Linked DNA regions of Homo sapiens: region 2 is linked to region 1. Evidence: fine-mapped QTL for protein levels in blood plasma. Region 1 holds a variant in brackets. A gene starts in the other region. All regions are shown on their forward strands.

What was found. A credible set is the group of variants that fine-mapping cannot tell apart. PIP is the posterior inclusion probability: the model's chance that the variant is causal. The UK Biobank Pharma Proteomics Project read protein levels with antibody pairs (Olink). The fine-mapping took linkage between variants from a reference panel, not from the people measured, so its PIPs are less certain.
Region 2: SCGB3A1 starts here. The variant in region 1 is the best candidate, but not a certain one, in a credible set for the plasma level of the SCGB3A1 protein (UK Biobank, PIP 0.73).

The regions. Positions count from the first base shown.
Region 1 is chr11:62,422,348-62,430,665 of GRCh38, forward strand. It overlaps SCGB1A1 (secretoglobin family 1A member 1), which reads left to right. Exons shown (of 3, transcript NM_003357.5): 2 at 1-61; 3 at 712-848. The coding sequence ends at 744. LOC102723765 (a long non-coding RNA gene) reads right to left here and starts at 4,576. Exons shown (of 4, transcript XR_007062699.1): 1 at 4,340-4,576. RefSeq lists enhancers at 2,265-2,354, 2,395-2,464, 3,814-4,361. The variant C/G (reference allele first, on the strand shown) is at 629.
Region 2 is chr5:180,589,393-180,597,710 of GRCh38, forward strand. It overlaps SCGB3A1 (secretoglobin family 3A member 1), which reads right to left and starts at 2,107. Exons shown (of 3, transcript NM_052863.3): 1 at 2,019-2,107; 2 at 1,208-1,446; 3 at 713-862. The coding sequence starts at 2,070. The coding sequence ends at 839. It overlaps LOC124901154 (a long non-coding RNA gene), which reads left to right and starts at 3,778. Exons shown (of 2, transcript XR_007059088.1): 1 at 3,778-3,817; 2 at 4,501-4,876. RefSeq lists enhancers at 299-968, 969-1,638, 1,639-2,308 and a silencer at 7,321-7,492.

The DNA.
Region 1 (8,318 bases):
GCTGAAGAAGCTGGTGGACACCCTCCCCCAAAAGCCCAGAGAAAGCATCATTAAGCTCATGGTAACCAGCACCTTTCACGTCACACTGGTTAGAAGTGGCTTCCCCAAGTGGGGCTGCAGGATTGCCCCAGTTTTCAGACCTGTTTCTAATCCAGAGAGGAGAGTCACAGTGCCACTGTCCCCAGGCAGGCAGCACAGTGATCTTTCTAGACATCTCCTCTTCCTTTTTTTTTTTTTTTTTTTTTGAGACAGAGTCTCGCTCTGTCGCCCAGACTAGGGTGCAATAGCACGATCTTGGCTTACTGCAACCTCCACCTCCCAGGTTCAAGCGATTCTCCGGCCTCAGCCTCTTGAGTAGCTGGGATTACAGGCACCCACCATCATGCCGAGCTAATTTCTGTATTTTTGTAGAGATGGGGTTTCACCGTGTTTGCCAGGCTGGTCTCGAACTCCTGACCTCAGGTGATCCACCCGCCTCAGCCTCCCAAAGTGCTGGCATTACAGGCGTGAGCCACCACGCCCAGCCTCCCCTTACTATTTTGTAAGAGGCTTTTGAGAAACAATCCAAGCCCTTACTACCTTAGTTCCTCCTAGAGTTGACTGCACCTCTCGGTTAATGTTGAAGTTT[C/G]TGTGGCTCGTCATCTCTGCCTAACTATGCAATTCATTCACTGTTGTATTGGGTTTTTCTGTTTCTTTGTCTATTTGTTTTAGGAAAAAATAGCCCAAAGCTCACTGTGTAATTAGCATTTAGAAGCTGAAGATCCCCAACTGCTCCAGCCTCTGCCGCTGCCATGCTTTGAGTCCACGCCCACCAGCCTTGCTCTCTTCAATAAACCACAAGCATCTCACTTTTGTGCCCCCTGCGTGGTTTTGGTCTCCTTGTTATGGTGGGGGGTCTGCCCCTGTCAGGGTAAGGTGAGCCAGGACAAAAGGAAAGCAGCCGAGCTCTGCCCTTGGATCCCAGCAGAAATCTCTGTGCTCTTCCAAAGCTCTTTTCCTCTAGGTTTCTGCCTCCAACAGAGCTCAAGCCCCCTCCCCTTATATCAGACCATCTACTCAACATCACAGACTCTACTCAACATCACAGACTCCACTTGTCCAACAGAACCAGTGATCCTGCCCCAGTCTGTTCCTATCTCAGTGAGTTCTGGCTCCATCCTCCCCGCTGGGCTGCACCAGCCTGAGGAGCATCCGCGATCCTTCCTTCTCTAGCCAACCCAGGCTACCTCTAAAGGGCCTCTGGAATCCTTCACTCCAAGTCCACAGGCAACACCCCCATCCCTGCCTGTACAGCCCCCGGGGCCTCCTCTCTGGCTCCCAGCCAGACTCCAGGGCCCCCACAATCCCTTCTCCAACAACCCAAAGGAATTCTTCTCAAGTGCAAAGTCCCTCCCCATCCTTCAAAGCTTTCTAGGGCTCTTATTGTAAAATCCTAAATCCTGACGATAGATAGTGGCCCCTCACCAGTCTTTCCTGTGCTCCTCCTTCCCACGGCTCCTTCATTCTGCTCAGTCCCCACACACACCCCCACCTTCCCTGCCCTCAGTTTTTAAAAAGAGCCAAGCCCCTTTCAACCTTAAGACCTTTGTACCAGCCACACAGCCCTGGCTGCTCAAAAAGTGTGGCTGATGGCCAGGCACGGTGGCTCACGCCGGTAATCCCAGCACTTTGGGAGGCCAAGGCGGGAGGATCACCTGAGGTCAGGAGTTCGAGACCAGCCTGGCCAACATGGTGAAACCCCATCTCTACTAAATATACAAAAAATTAGCCAGGTATGGTGGTGCGTGCCTGTAATCCCAGCTACTCGGGTGGCTGAGGCAGGAGAATCACTTAACCTGGGAGGCAGAGGTTGCAGTGAGCTGAGATCGTGACACTGCACTCCAGCCTGGACAACAAGAGTGAAACTCCATCTCAAAAAAAAAAAAAATTGTGGCTGATTGGTTTTTAAAATTGCTCTAGAGCAAAATGTGCAAAGAATAGAACTCATCCTAAAGATGCATCCATGTGGATATAAAGACCCCCAAATCCCCGGCCAGTTTCATGGCAGCCAGCCCCCTGCTGGGCCACATTATCCACAGCACCTAAATAGAAGCGGAGGATTGGCTGGGCTTGGTGGCTCATGCCTGTAATTCCAGCACTTCGGGAGGCTGAGGTAGGAAGATGGCTTGGGCCCAGGAGTTCAAGACCAGCCTGGCAACATAGTGAGACTCCATCTCTACAAAAATAAAAATAAATTAGCCGAGTTTGGTAACGCATGCCTGTAGAGCTGGCTACTCTGGAGGCTGAGGCAGGAGGATCTCTTGAGTCCAGGAGTTCCAGGCTGCAGTGAGCTATGATCATGCCACTGCACTCCAGCCTGGGTGACAAAGGTGAGACCCTGTCTCAAAAGGAAAGAAAGAAAAAGGTGGAGGACTGCAGAGGGGCTGCAGGAATCGGAAGGGCGTCGGCAGAGGGCACGGAAGGAGGCGGCGGGTTAGAGACGGAGCTCTCCAGTTCGAGCCCCTCCATGGAGCAACGTGGTCCGGTGGGCCTTGTGCCCCGCGGCCACTAGGGGGCAGCATCGTCCACAGGGTCCTGGAGCGGACGCGCTGTCGGGGCTGAGGCACCCAGAGCTCCGGCTCTGAGGATCTGGTGTCATCCGTATAATTTTTTAAATCTCGGCCGTGCGCGGTGGCTGACTCCTGTAATCCCAGCACTTTGGGAGGCCGAGGCGGGTGGATCACCTGAGGTCGGGAGTTCGAGACCAGCCTGTCCAACATGGTGAAACCCCATCTCTACTAAAAATAAAAAATTAGCTGGGTGTGGTGGCGCGCACCTGTAGTCCCAGCTATTTGGGAAGCTGAGGCAGGAGAATCGCTTGAACCCAGGAGGCGGAGGTTGCAGTGAGCCGAGATCGAGATCGCGCCACTGCACTCCAGCCTGGGAGGTTGCAGTGAGCTGAGATTGTGCCATCGCACTCGAAAAAAAAATAATAATAAAAAATATATATATATAAAATAAAAATCTCATATTTTGAAAGTTTTAAAATCCGAATTCTGAGGGAAAACAGGGGCAGCCACACAAACCATGTTGCCACCCGGTTGAACCCTGCCAGGGAGTGATGTGTCAGCCTTTTTGGGATTAGCAATAATTCCATTCCCAGACGATTTCAAGGGCAAGGTTCATGGAATCTAGAACTTGAGATGGCCCCAAAGGTGGAGAAGACCATGCGGAGCTGGCGGGGCTGGCCTTTGACCTCCACCTGCCCGGTTTCTAAAGTCCCCAGGCAGAAACCACAACCCAATAACCCTTATTGATTGCTTAGGTGCTGGCAGGCGCTTTCGCAATCTTTTTTTTTTTTTTTTTTTTTGAGATGGAGTCTTGCTCTGTCTCCAGGCTGGAGTGCAGTGGCATGATCTCAGCTCACTGCAACCTCCAACTCCCTGATTCGAGCAATTCTCCTGCCTCAGCCTCCCGAGTAGATGGGATTACAGGCTCCTGCCATCATGCCTGGCTAATTTTTGTGTTTTAAGTAGAGACAGGGTTTCTCCATGTTGGCCAGGCTGGTCTCGAACTCCTGACCTCAGGTGATCCACCCGCCTTGGCCCCTCAAGGGCTGGGATTACAGGCGTGAACCACCGCGCCCGCCCTCAGCCAGTAGTGGTTTTTTGTTTGTTTGTTTGTTTGTTTGTTTTTGAGACGGAGTCTTGCTCTCTCGCCCAGGCTGGAGTGCAGTGGTGTGATCTTGGCTCACTGCAAGCTCTGCCTCCCGGGTTTGCACCATCCTCCTGCGTCAGCCTCCCGAGTAGCTGGGACTACAGGCGCCCGCCACCACGCCAGGCTAATTTTTCGTATTTTTAGTAGAGATGGGGTTTCACGGTGTTAGCCAGGATGGTCTTGATTTCCTGACCTCGTGATCCACCAGCCTCGGCCTCCCAAAGTGCTGGGATTACAGGCGTGAACCACCGCGCCGGGCCTTGCAATCTCTCAATTACTCCTCACACAACCCAGATTCCAGAGCCCGTGCCCCAACCCCTGCCCTGCAGGTGGTGGTGGGATCCCTAATTCCAGAATCCCCAGAGCCAAAAATCCAAATGATGGTGATGAGCAAAGTCCACCTACCCCCAAACACACACTCACACACACAAACTAGAAAGCCACCGTGCCCTTCATTTTCAGCCACGAAGGAGGGGATCTGATTGTAAAAATTCCGGAGCAGGTTGGGGGACTGGCAACTCCAAAAGAGATTCCTTGCCTCCGGTGGGGCCTTGATGGGGGCTGCCCAGCTCCCTCTCCTCCCCCACTCCCTCCCTGCTGAGGCATCACATTCTCCTTCACCAGGTCATCCTAAAGCACATACCTTTGCGCTGGTGGGCCATCCGCCTGGATGAGTATTGTTTCATCGGATAAGCTTCCAGAGCCATAAAAGGTTCAGAATTTTAATTGCCTATTCACAGCCAAGGGAAACATTTACCCAGGGCCAATGCAAGGCAGGTATCTGAGGAAAAGAAGCACAATTACGGTGCAGAGAGGCTTGAGGCTGGGGACAACACTGCAGGAATCACTGTGGGTGATTCACAAGAATGTGGGCTATGCCAATCCACAGAAATGGGCGTTAAATTTTAAAACAGCAGAATGCAAAGATAAACTGATTGCAACCACAGGAAGAGCATGTAACTGTGTGATGCATGTTGACAGAAAGCAGGAAATTCGAGAAATGAAGGCACTGTTCACTGGGTGCTTTTCTGTCTGTGTGTAGTTACTCACACCAGTTACTCGTGTATTATAGCATGGGTCTGTAGACTATGGCCAGCAGGCTAAGCTCAGGCTATGGCCTATTTTTTTTTTTTTTTTTTTTTGAGACGGTTTCTCACTCTGTGGCCCAGGATGGAGTACAGTGGCGCAATCTCGGCTCACTGCAACCTCCACCTCCCAGGTTCAAGTGATTCTCCTGCCTCAGCCTCCCAAGTAGCTGGGATTACAGGCGCATGCCACCATGGCTGGCTAATTTTGTATTTTTAGTAGAGACAGGTTTCACCATGTTGGTCAGGCTGGTCTTGAACTCCCGACCTCAGGTGATCCGCCCACCTCAGCCTCCCAAAGTGTTGGGATTACAGGCATGAGCCACCGTGCCTGGTCATTTGTTTGTATTCTTAGTAGAGACGGGGTTTCACCATGTTGGTCAGGCTAGTCTCAAACTCCTGACCTCAGGTGATCCACCCGCTTCGGCTTCCCAAAGTGCTGGGATTACAGGCTTGAGCCACCACGCCCCGCTAAGACCACATTTCTTGATCACATTGTCAAGAAAACTGAATCTGAGTGAAAAACTTTTTGAAAGTATCTGTTAACCCTGAAATCTGCAACCAAAGGAAACTTACTCTGGAGGAAAGCTAAAGCAGAATGGTAGTTGTCAAACACCGCCATCACGTTGCAAAATCCAGGGGCTTGTGTCAATGTGCCTGGACTAATTGATCAGTAGGAAAGCTGCCGTTGTGTATGAGAGACAGTTGAGGTTAGCCTGACAGAAATATCTGTAAATGACTCATGAGGCAGGAAGAAGAAGCAAAACCAGCCTTCATTAGCCTTATCACGATGATATGGATAAAATTATGTCTAGTTTGCAGCTGATGCAAGCCCTGCTGTTTTCGAAAGCCAAGGGATTTGTGGGCAGTAATCACCATAGGGGTGTCTGCCACTCAAAATGGCTTCAGATAGACGATCAAGAGAAGTTTTATTGATGATGATGAGGCCACACAAACAATGCATTCTGAAACATGTAATTAGGGGATGTTCCTCCCAAGCACTTTCAGAATACACCAACAGGCACATGGGGATAATGTGAGGATGAATCATCAGTAGTTAGCCACCCAACATATTTCCATGAGCAAACTAAAATTATAAAACTATAGTACATGCAAAAAAATCTGAAAATAGACTGGGCACGGTGGCTCACGCCTATAATCTCAGCACTTTGGGAGGCCGAAGCAGGCGGATCACCTGAGGTCGGGAGTTCGAGACCAGCCTGACCAACATGGAGAAACCCTGTCTCTACTAAAAATACAAAATTAGCCAGGCATGGCGGTGGGTGCCTGAAATCCCAGCTACTCGGGAGGCTGAGGCAGGAGAATCGCTTGAACCTGGGAGGCAGAAGTTGCAGTGAGCCAAGATCGCACCATTGCACTCCAGCCTGGGCAACAAGAGCAAAACTCTGTCCCCAAAAAAAAAAAAATCTGAAAATACATTTAGCTAAGCTAGCATGGGAATTGATTGCCAGCTTGGGAATTGATAAACCGGGGGTTTGGAACTCAGATTTGTTACCCCATCAAGTGAATGGATTCCCAGCTAATCACAAGAGTCTAGTTAACTCTGAAAATACCTGCAGTTATATGCCCATAGCTGTAACTGCCCGGTGGGTTCACCTTGCTCGCTGCCTGGACGGAGCCAATTTATCAAGACAGGGGAATTGCAGTGGAGAAGGAGTAATTCACACAGAGCTGGTGTGTGGGAGACTGGGTTTTATTATTACTCCAAACAGTCTCCCTGAGCATTCGGGGATCGGGGTTTTTAAAGATAATTTGGCGGGTAAGGGCTTGGGAAGCAGGGAGTGCTGATTGGTCAGGCTGGAGATGGAATCCTAGGGGGTGGAAGTGTGGTTTTCTTGCTGTCTTCTGTTCCTGGGGAGGATGGCAGAAATGGTTGAGCCAGATTACCAGTCTGGGTTGTGTCAGCTGATCCATCGAATGCAGGGTCTGCAAACTATCTCAAGCACTGATCTTAGGTTTTACAATAGTGATGTTATCTGCAGGAGCAATCTGGGGAGGCTCAGACTCTTGGAGCCAGAGGCTGCATGACCGCTAAACTAAATTTCTAATCTTGTAGCTAATTTGTTAGTCTTGCAAAGGCAGACTGGTCCACAGGCAAGAATGGGGTTTTTTTTAGGGAAATGGCTATTATCAATTTTGTTTCAGAGTCAAAACATGAACTGAATTCCTTCCCAAAGTTAGTTCAGGCCTATGCCCAGGAATGAACAAGGACAGCTTAAAGGTTAGAAGGAAGATGGAGTCGGTTAGGTCTGATCTCTTTCACTGTCATAATTTCCTCAGTTGTAATTTTTGCAAAGGCGGTTTCACAGCCACCCTGTGTGTGTAACCACGAGGCAGATACCTACAGAGCTTCCTTTAGAGTTCCCTCTTAGGGCTGGGTGCAGTGGCTCAAGCCACTGTGGGAGGCTGAGGCAGGCGGATCACCTGAGGTCAGGAGTTCGAGACCAGCCTGGCCAACATGGCAAAACCCCATCTCTACTAGTAATACAAAAATTACCCGGGCATGATGGCGCATGCCTGTAGTCCCCGCTACAGCTGAGGCAAGAGAATCACTTGAACCCAGGAGGCAGAAGTTGCAGTGGCAGAGGTTGCAGAGGCGGAAGTTGTAGTGAGCCGAGGTTGCAGTAAGCCGAGATCACACCACTGCACTCCAGCCTGGGTGACAGAATGAGACTCCATCTCAAAAATAAAAATGAAAAAGAATTCCCTGTTAGGCCCCTGTCACAAAAGTAGGTACTAATCAGCCCTGGGACAGGATAGAGACTTGATCAGAGGCTCCCTGGGAGCTGTGGAAGGAGGAGCAGGCCTTGGGGCATCAGGAGAGGAGAAAGGGTTGCTGGGCTGGGGGATCTCCTGACCTCCTGACCTTAGGCGTCCAGTCGGTCTCTGAGTCCATCTCAACTTACATGGAATTGATCCCTTTATTTTTTTTTATTTATTTATTTTTGAGATAGGGTCTCACTCTGTCACCCAGGCTGGAGTGCAAGGTTGCAATCACTGCTCACTGCAACCTCCGCCTCCCAGGCTCAAGCAATCCTCCTCCCTCAGCCTCCTGAGTAGCTGGGATGACAGGCGCACACCACCATGCCCAGCTAATTTTTGTATTTTTTTTCATAGATACGGGTTTTCGCCATGTTGGCCAGGCTGGTCTCAAACTCCTGGACTCAAATGATCTGCCAGCCTCTGCCTCCCAAAGTGTTGGGATTACAGGCGTGAGCCACCGTGCCCAGCCCTTATCCCCTTCTCTTGACCCTATTGCCAATTCCAAGCCTTCACCATCTGTGACCTGGATCATTGCAAACAGCCTCTACATTAGTTTCTATGGCTGCTGTAACAACTTACCACAGACTTAATAACTTAAAAACACACAAATTTATGATCTTCTCGTTCTGGAGGCCAGATGTCTGAAATGCATTTCACTGGGCTAAAAACCAAGGTGTTGGCAGGCTGCATTCTTTCTGGAGTCTCCAGGGGAGAATCTGTCTCCTTGTTTTTTCCATTTTCTAAAGGCCACCC
Region 2 (8,318 bases), not on the chromosome of region 1:
TGCCTTGGCTTCTCAAAGTGCTAGGGTTACAGGTGTGCGCCACCGTGCCCAATCAAAAAATTTTTAAAATCTCGTGTGGATATTCATGATGGGGGGAAGACCTGCTCAAGCCACCTGAGGCAGAGTTATTCATCCCAGCAAGGAAGTCAACTGGGAGGCTTCCCCTGAAAGGGACACCGATGTCTGGGTTCCCTGGGCACCTTCCCACCAACACTAGATCAGTTGACAAAAGGTGGTCTCTCCGCTAGAGTAGAAGGAATCAAAGTCACTAGGTTATTTGGACAAAACCAGCAGAAACTGCAGGGAAAACAAGCCCAACAGCGGATTTCCTGAAGCCCTCATTCCTCCCCCATTCCGAGGAAGAAATCTACAAGTATAGAGGGAAAAAATAAAAACTTTCAAATTTTAGCAACAAATGGCTTTGGTGCGTTTGCATTCTCGCCAGTCTTCAAGGAGTAGATAATTTTTATGCTTCATAAACAGTTACAGAGCACAACAGGAAGAAAGACCTGCCAGTTTTGTTTCCAAATCCGGTTTACCTCTGATACTGGCCCCATCTCTGTCACCTTGCACTGCTGGCTCTATGCCACCTGCAGACTCTCGCGGCCTCTCTCTCCCTCTCTCACGCAGCACCCCTCACAAAATCTGGGACTTGGCACTCTCGGTCCCCCACAGGGATCAGCATTTGGATGAGAAAATACCAGGCTCGAGCTGCTCTTAACCACGTTTATTGAGAGGGGCCGGGGGAAGGGGATGGACGGTCCTCCCCGCGGCGGGGTTTTCAGCCCTCGCGGGTGGGCAGCGTCTTGTCCTCAGGTGTAGATGCTCCAGTCTCGGCTCAGCCAAACACTGTCAGGGCCCCCTGGAAAGCAGAAGCCGAGCTTGAGTGCCCCCAGCCCTGCCACCAAGAACTCAGGCGGGGGCGCGGCAGCGGCCGGCTCTGTGGGGAGCGGGAGCGGGGCGGTTCCGCTGGCGTCTCCGGGGGACGCGCACCCGCGCGGGGCCATCTCCGCCTTCCCCGCCCCTGCAGCTCGGATGCGCCCCACCCAGTTCCCACCCGGAGACCCGGGCTTCTCCCAGGGACAGGGCTTGGAGGGGCAGGACGGGAAACAGCCCTGACGTAGGGCCGGGACACCTCTGGTGCAGTTTTGAGGCTGGCCGGGAAGGGATGCCCGCGCAGGAAGGGCACCCGGGGTGCCCACTTTACCAGCAGGGCCTTCAGGGCCTTCACGGCCCCCACGGCCTGGGGACCCAGCTCAGCCACACACTTCTGGGAGCCCTCTATGAGGTGGTTCACGGGGATGCCCAGGCTGCTCAGCAGGAGCTTCAGCGGGTTGAGGGTGCCGAGGGGGTTGGCCAGGGTCCCGGCCCCGGCCTCCGCCGCCGACTCCAGCGCAGCGACAGGCTGGGCCACAGGCTTGGCCGAGCCCACTAAGAAAGCAGCAGCTGCAAGCGAACAGGGAGGGGTCACCGCCTGCGCGCCGGGGTCCCCAGAAGGCAGGTCCAGGACGCGCCCCCGCGGGAGGCGCCCAGGAACCGTCGCGCCCTGCCCGGCTCCCCGACCGCCCCTCCCTCCTGCGCCGAGGCCTGCCAGGTGCGAGCCCCCGGGACACAGGCGGGTCTGGGGAGGCGGCCCCGCCAGGAGACGCTGCAGGGTCACCGGAGTGGCCTGAGGGTGGCGGAAGGACCGGTGAACTCTGTGCAGGGTCCGGGACAGGCCCCCAAGGGAGGGGACACTCGCGCTGCGCCTTGCAGGATGAGGAGCCGGTCTCCAGACGGGGGGCAGACGGGTGTCCCCAGGCCAGGGGCGGCCTCCATCCCGGCACGAGGCTGGAGACAGCCCTGAGAGGGGGAGGCCGCGGGCTGCAGGCGCGGGGCCCCGGGGTGGCGGAGCCCTCTGGGCGCCGGGCGAGGCTGGAAGGACCTGGGATCCACGATCGGCGCAGGCAGCGGCGGGGGCGCAGCGGGCGCCGAGGCCTCAGGCCCCACCGTGCGCGCCAGGAGCCCGGGGCGCTCACCGGAGCTGCAGGACAGGGCCACGCAGAGCCCCAGGAGGGCGGCGAGCTTCATGGCGCGGGGGCTCGGGGCGCGCGGGGAACCTGCGGCTGCCCGGGCAAGGCCACGAGGCTTCTTATACCCGGTCCTCGCCCCTCCAGCGCCGGCCTCGCCCGCGCTCCTGAGAAAGCCCTGCCCGCTCCGCTCACGGCCGTGCCCTGGCCAACTTCCTGCTGCGGCCGGCGGGCCCTGGGAAGCCCGTGCCCCCTTCCCTGCCCGGGCCTCGAGGACTTCCTCTTGGCAGGCGCTGGGGCCCTCTGAGAGCAGGCAGGCCCGGCCTTTGTCTCCGCGAGGCCCACCCCGGCCCGCACCTTCGCTTTGCGGTCTGACCCCACGCGCCCCCCTGCAGGGCTGGGCCCGGGTGAGGGGAGCTTCCCTCGCGCCAGGGCAGGGGCGGGGGCGGCGCAGTTCCTGGCTCCCTGGTCCCTGCCTCTGATCCCAGACCGTGGCAACGTCGGGCACTGGGGGTCCTCGTGGGCGCCTTCTGCGCCTGGGGAGGTGGAGGCGCCAGGGACGATCAGGCCTCACTCCCGGCCGCCTCCCCGGCCGGGCCACAGGCAGCCACAGTGCAAACAGAAGTGGGGCGTTTTTCTGTCTTCGAAACTAGCCTCGACGCCAGTGGATGGGCCTGGTTTGTTCCTGAGTTTCTCTAAATGTCCTCACTCGTCTGTCACCTGCAGAAGTATGACAGATGGAGAGCAAAGCACATTTTGAAAACTTTTGCAAATGATACATAAACTAATTTGCTTTTAGTCCTTCTTCTTTCCTCTATTTTTTGACCCCAGGCATTGAGCACTGAGTGACTCACGTTTTGCTGCGTGGCTGCTCTCAGCTAGGTTGGTGCAAAGTCTCTCTTTTCTTTTGTAAAGTGTAGCTGGCACGCGTGGGAAACAGGCTCCCGGGTGGGAGGACCTGACTCTTCAGGCAGTGTCCTGGAATTCCTTCCCTATGGCTGACAGCACGTCTTAGCCCTCAGCCACCCCGAGCTACTGCGGCCTCCTCCGCACCTGCAGACACTTGTGCCTTTGCCAACTGTTGTGGCCAGGCACACGCATTCACACTGTTTCTGTTCACTTACACTTTTCCTTGACTATTTTGTTTGGGGGATTTTTGCATTATAAATCTGGAGTTTGGTTGTGTTTTGTTGGTCATCATGGAAGTAATTTTAATGGGAAATACGTTTTCTTTTTTAAAAACAGTTTGAAGTTAATTACTTTTTTGGTGGTGGTAAAGACACTGTCTTGCCGTGTTGCCCAGGCTGGTCTCGAACTCCTGAGCTCAAGCAATCCTCCCACCTCAGACTCCCAAGTAGCTGGGACTAGAGGTGTGAGCCACCACACTCAGCGGATTTTGATTTTGTTTTTTGTTTGTTTGTTTTTTGAGACAGTCTCACTCTGTCGCCCAGGCTGGAGTGTAGTGAGGTGATCTTGGTTCACTGCAGCCTCCACCTCCCAGGCTCAAGCAATTCTCCCACCTCAGCCTCCCAAGCAGGTGGGGCTATAGGTGTGCACCACTATGTCCAGCTAATTTTGTTTATTTTTTGTAGAGACAAAGTCTCACTGTGTTGCCCAGACTGGTCTTGAACTCTTAGCCTCAAGTGATACTCTTGCCTCAGCCTCCCAAAGTGCTGGGATTACAGGTGTGAGCCACCACGCCTGGCTTGATTTATTTTTATTTTTTCTAGAGATGGGGTCTCGCTACATTGACCAAGCTGGTCTCAAAATCCTGGCCTGAAGCAATCCTCCCGCCTCAGACTCCCAAGGTGCTGTGATGACACGTGTGAGCCACCCCGCACAGCCCAGCTTCACCATCTTAAGGGCACACTCCATTAGCATTAAGTATATTCTAATGTTGTGCAAACATCACCACAATCCATTTCCAGAACTCTTTTCCTCTTATAAAACTGAAACTCTGAGCCTATTAAACAACTCCCCACTCCCCTCCCCAAGCCCTTGGCACCACCATTCCACTTTCTGTCTCTGAATCTGGCCACTCCCGGCACCTCATATGAGTGGAATCGGGCAGTGTTTGTCTTTTGTGTCTGGCGTATTTCACTTAGCATGATATCCTCCAGGTTCATTCATGACCTTCAGAGTTTCCTTCCTTCTTAGGGTAGGATACTGCTCCATTGCATGGCTGTGCCACGTTTTCTTCACCCATTCACTTCACCCGTGGGTGGACATGTGGGCGCTTGCATGTTTTCACTGCTGTGAGTAATGCGGCCGTGAACACGGCTGTGCAAATGCCTCTTTGGGACCCTGCTGTTGGCTGTTTTGGGTGGCTGCTCAGAGGTAGAATGGCTGGAGCCTGTGGAACTTGCCTGTGTCATTTGTGAGGATCTGCCATCTCTCCCATAGCAGCGGCACCACGCTGCCTTCCCAGCAACAATGCACAAGGATCCCAGTGTGTCCACAACCTCATGATGCTTGTTCTTCTCCTGAGCAGGATCTGGCAGCCTTGGCCCAAGCAATCCCAGTGGGCGCATCTTGGGAGCTGACTTTGGGGCCACCTTTCCCCATGCTGCCTGGGGACCAGAGAACACTGACCGCGGGAAAGACCGATGCTGCCGAGGCCAGGAGGAGGGGGAGGCCGTCATCTGTGGGTCCCCAGCAGCGCTTGGGGTCCTGGCCACTCCAGCGGCCCCTTGCACCTGCCTCCAGGGATCCTTTGTCTTCAAAATAACCTCCCTCCACCTTCCGGCTCATAGTGCCTTGGGTGGATCTGTTCCCATTTCCCACAAGCCTGCAGGGTGGTGACAGGCCCTCATTCCCATGTGCCCCAAGATTTCGGATTCCAAAAATACATCCCCTGGCTCCCCGGAGAAGTGTGTCACGGTGTCTCCGTTTCACCACTGACAGGGCCAAAGGATGTGCTCTCCTCTCCCGAGCTGCCATGGTCAAGGCAAGCCAGGACTCACCTCAGGCTGGCCCAGCCCCTCACCCCACACTGGCTCTGGGGGCCACGGCTGGCGAAGCCTCTGCGGTAGTTGGGGATCAGGCAGGCCGAGGGTCTGGCCTGTGCCGAGACCTGCACAGCTGGGTCAGCGGCTGCCTCTGTATTCATTTCCTGAGGCTGCTGTGACAAGTCACCACATACCTGGTGGCTGAAAACAACACATTTACTCCGCTCGCAGTTCTGGAGCCCAGAAGTGCAGTGTCACGGGGGTGAAGGCGAGGCGTCGGGGGCCGCTCCTCCTCCAGAGGCTGGGCCTTCCCAGGAGCTTATCCACTCCTGGCCTCTCCCTGCTTATGGGGGCTGCCAGGGCCCCTTGGCTGGTGACTGCATCACTCCAGTCTCTGCCTCCTGGTCACATGGCCTCCTCCTCTTCTGTGTGTGTGGGTGTGTGTGTGAGGGTGCGTGGGGTGTGTGTGTGAGGGTTTGTCGGTGTGTGGGTGTGTGTGGGTGTGTGGGTGTGTGTGGGGGTGTGTGTGGGTGTGTGAGGGTTCGTGTGTGGGTGTGTGGGAGTGAGAGGGTATGGGTGTGTGTGAGGGTGTGTGAGGGTATGTGTGGGTGTGTGAGTGTGTGTGGGGTGTGTGTGAGGGTGTGTATGTGTGGGTGTGTATGTGGGTGTGTGTGAGGGTTCATGTGTGGGTGTGTGTGGGTGTGGGGATGTGTGGGGGTGTGTGTGTGGAGGGGTGAGAGTGAATATGCATGCAAGTGTGTAAGATGGACAGTGAATGAGAATGTGCATGTGAAGGAGAGTGAGTGGGTGTGAGCTTGTGGGTGTGTTTGAGTGTGAATGTGTGTACAAGTGTGTGTGTGGATAAGCGTGAGTCAGTCTGTGTGGGAGGGAGAGTGTGGGAGGGAGTGTGTGGGAGGGAGTGTGTGGATATGCATGTGTTTGAATTGTGTGCAAGTGTGTGTGAATGTGTGTGTGAGTGTGGGTGTGTGTGAGTGTGAAAATTCTGCCGCCATCTTATGAGTGTGTGTGTTGTTGCATTTAGGGCTCACCTAGATAACCCAGGACAGTCCCCTCATCTCACAATGACGCCCCCAGTCGGGCTGCCGAGACCGTGCCTGCTGAGCCTAACATTCCAAGGTTCCAGGAGCTGGGGTGTGGACGGACCTGGGGCCTGCCATGCCCTCCAAGTGCTGCCCTGCCCCTTGAAGGCCAGGCCAGGTGAGGCTTCCAGGGTGGGTGTCAGAGTCCGCCCGGCATGGGACAGGGGCGGGTGGGCAGCGCCCTCTCGTCAGCCTGGGCCTTCCCTGCCACTCCTGCTTGCGGCCCTTGCTGGCTCAGGTCTGCCGAGACACTGAGAAAGTGCTTGGCGCTGTCTGCAGACGACACGGTCAGCTTGTTCTGGGCAGTGTTTGCAGGGCATCTTTTGGGCCAAAATAAACACGCACACCTTGCCCACTCCCACGGAATGCAGGAAGAGCTGGAAGGTAAACAAGCACTTTGCGGCTCTGGGGAAGGGGCCAGATATTGAATTTGGGGCCTATTGAAAGACCTCAGGGCCTCGGAGCAGGGTACTCAGCCCCTGGGTGCTCCTGCTGGGGAGCCTAGAGGCTCACGGTGCCTCCGCCCGGCCCACGCTTTGGCGGTGCTTCCGCAGACACCTGTGGAGGGCTGTTCAGGTGGCAGATGCCCACTCTGATGCCCCCACCATGTCCCCATTCTCTCTCTGATGTCCTCTCTCTCTGAGGCCCCTGCTCTCTGTGATGCCCCCTCTCTTTGATATCCCTCTTTCTCTGGTGCCCTCTCTTCCTAATGCCTTGAGTACATAAATTATTAAGCAAACTGGGTTGAACTCCGGATACCCATGCCTCTCTGATGTGGTCACCTGGGCAGGTGAGTGCAGCTCCCCGCCAGAGCAGGCATCTTGGTGACTGTTCATTGCCGGAGTTTTCTGGGGCCCCTCTCTGCCCACCTCTGCTCTCCTGGGATAGCAGCTGGCTGTCAGGTGGTGTCCTGGTGGCTGGGCCCTGGTTAGGTTAGCCCTCCATGCTAGAATGATCTGGGGCTTTGGGAGGGGTCTGTGGTGCTGTTCCAATAGAAGCTGCTCTTCTTTTTATGTCTAGAGCCAAAGGCCGCAGGCGCTGGACCCCGGCCCCGAGGCCCCCTTCCTCACTCCTTCTGAGCAAACTTTCCTACTCGAAGGTGGGGACCGGTGGGCAGCCCTGGTGGTGTCAGCCGGCACCCTGAGTTTCCCGATGGTCCTGGGACCCTTTTTCAAGGGACTTGTGGGGGCTCCTGGCCAGGGCCACCACAGCGGCCAGCAGCAGCGACCCTCCACACCGCCCTGAGTGGGCCCCACAAGGACAGGCACCTCGGCCAGTCCCAGCAGGCACTCTGGGCTTTCTCCTGCGCCAGTAGGAAGTGGTTTGGCTCGGCCCCGTGGGCCCTGGGGCGCTCAGCACCCCCTCCTCAGCCCCCGTCCTCCCTCCTCATGGCTCGGCCCCGTGGGCCCTGGGGCGCTCAGCACCCCCTCCTCAGCCCGCGTCCTCTTTCCTCATAGCTCAGCCCCGTGGGCCCTCGGGCACTGGGCAGTGTCGTGAGCATATCCGAGCGCCCTCTGTGGCACCGTCCCTGGGTCAATATTGATCTGGCTCTCAGCCACTTCCTTTTGCCCCTTCCCTGTCGGCACTCCCACCCACAGGGCCCTGCTGTGCGGAGGGGAGCAGGTGCTGTCGATGTGGTTCCTGCCTTGTGGGTTCAGGGCATTGGTGAAAGTGACAGAAAAGCTGACCCACGTGGCTTTAAGCAAAGACTGAAATTCCAGGAGTGGCTCCGCCTTCAGGGAAAGGTTGATCCAGGCTCAAAGGATGTCACCAGGACCTCATACCTCATTCTTCCCTGCCATCTCTCAGCTCCTTTTTTTTTTTTTGAGATGGAGTCTTGCTCTGTTGCCCAAGGTGGAGTGCAGTGGTGCAATCTCGGCTCACTGCAACCTCTGACCCCAAGTTCAAGCGATTCTCCTGCCTCAGCCTTCTGAGTAGCTGGGATTACAGGCGCCCGACACCATGCCCGCCTAATTTTTGTATTTTCAGTACAGCCAGGGTTTCATCGTGTTAGCCAGGATGGTCTCGATCTCCTGACCTCGTGATCTGCCTGCCTCGGCCTCCCAAAGTGCTGGGATTACAGGCGTGAGCCACCGCGCCCGGCCTCTCAGCTCCCATTTTTTAGAGTTGTCCTCCTTGGAGTGACAGGCTGGCAGCCAGCAGTGCCAAACCTCCGATACCAATTTGGGCCCAGGCACACAAGCGCTGGTGCTATCCCCAGGGCCCTCCCGTGAGGCTTCACCCCACTGCTCCAAGGACCG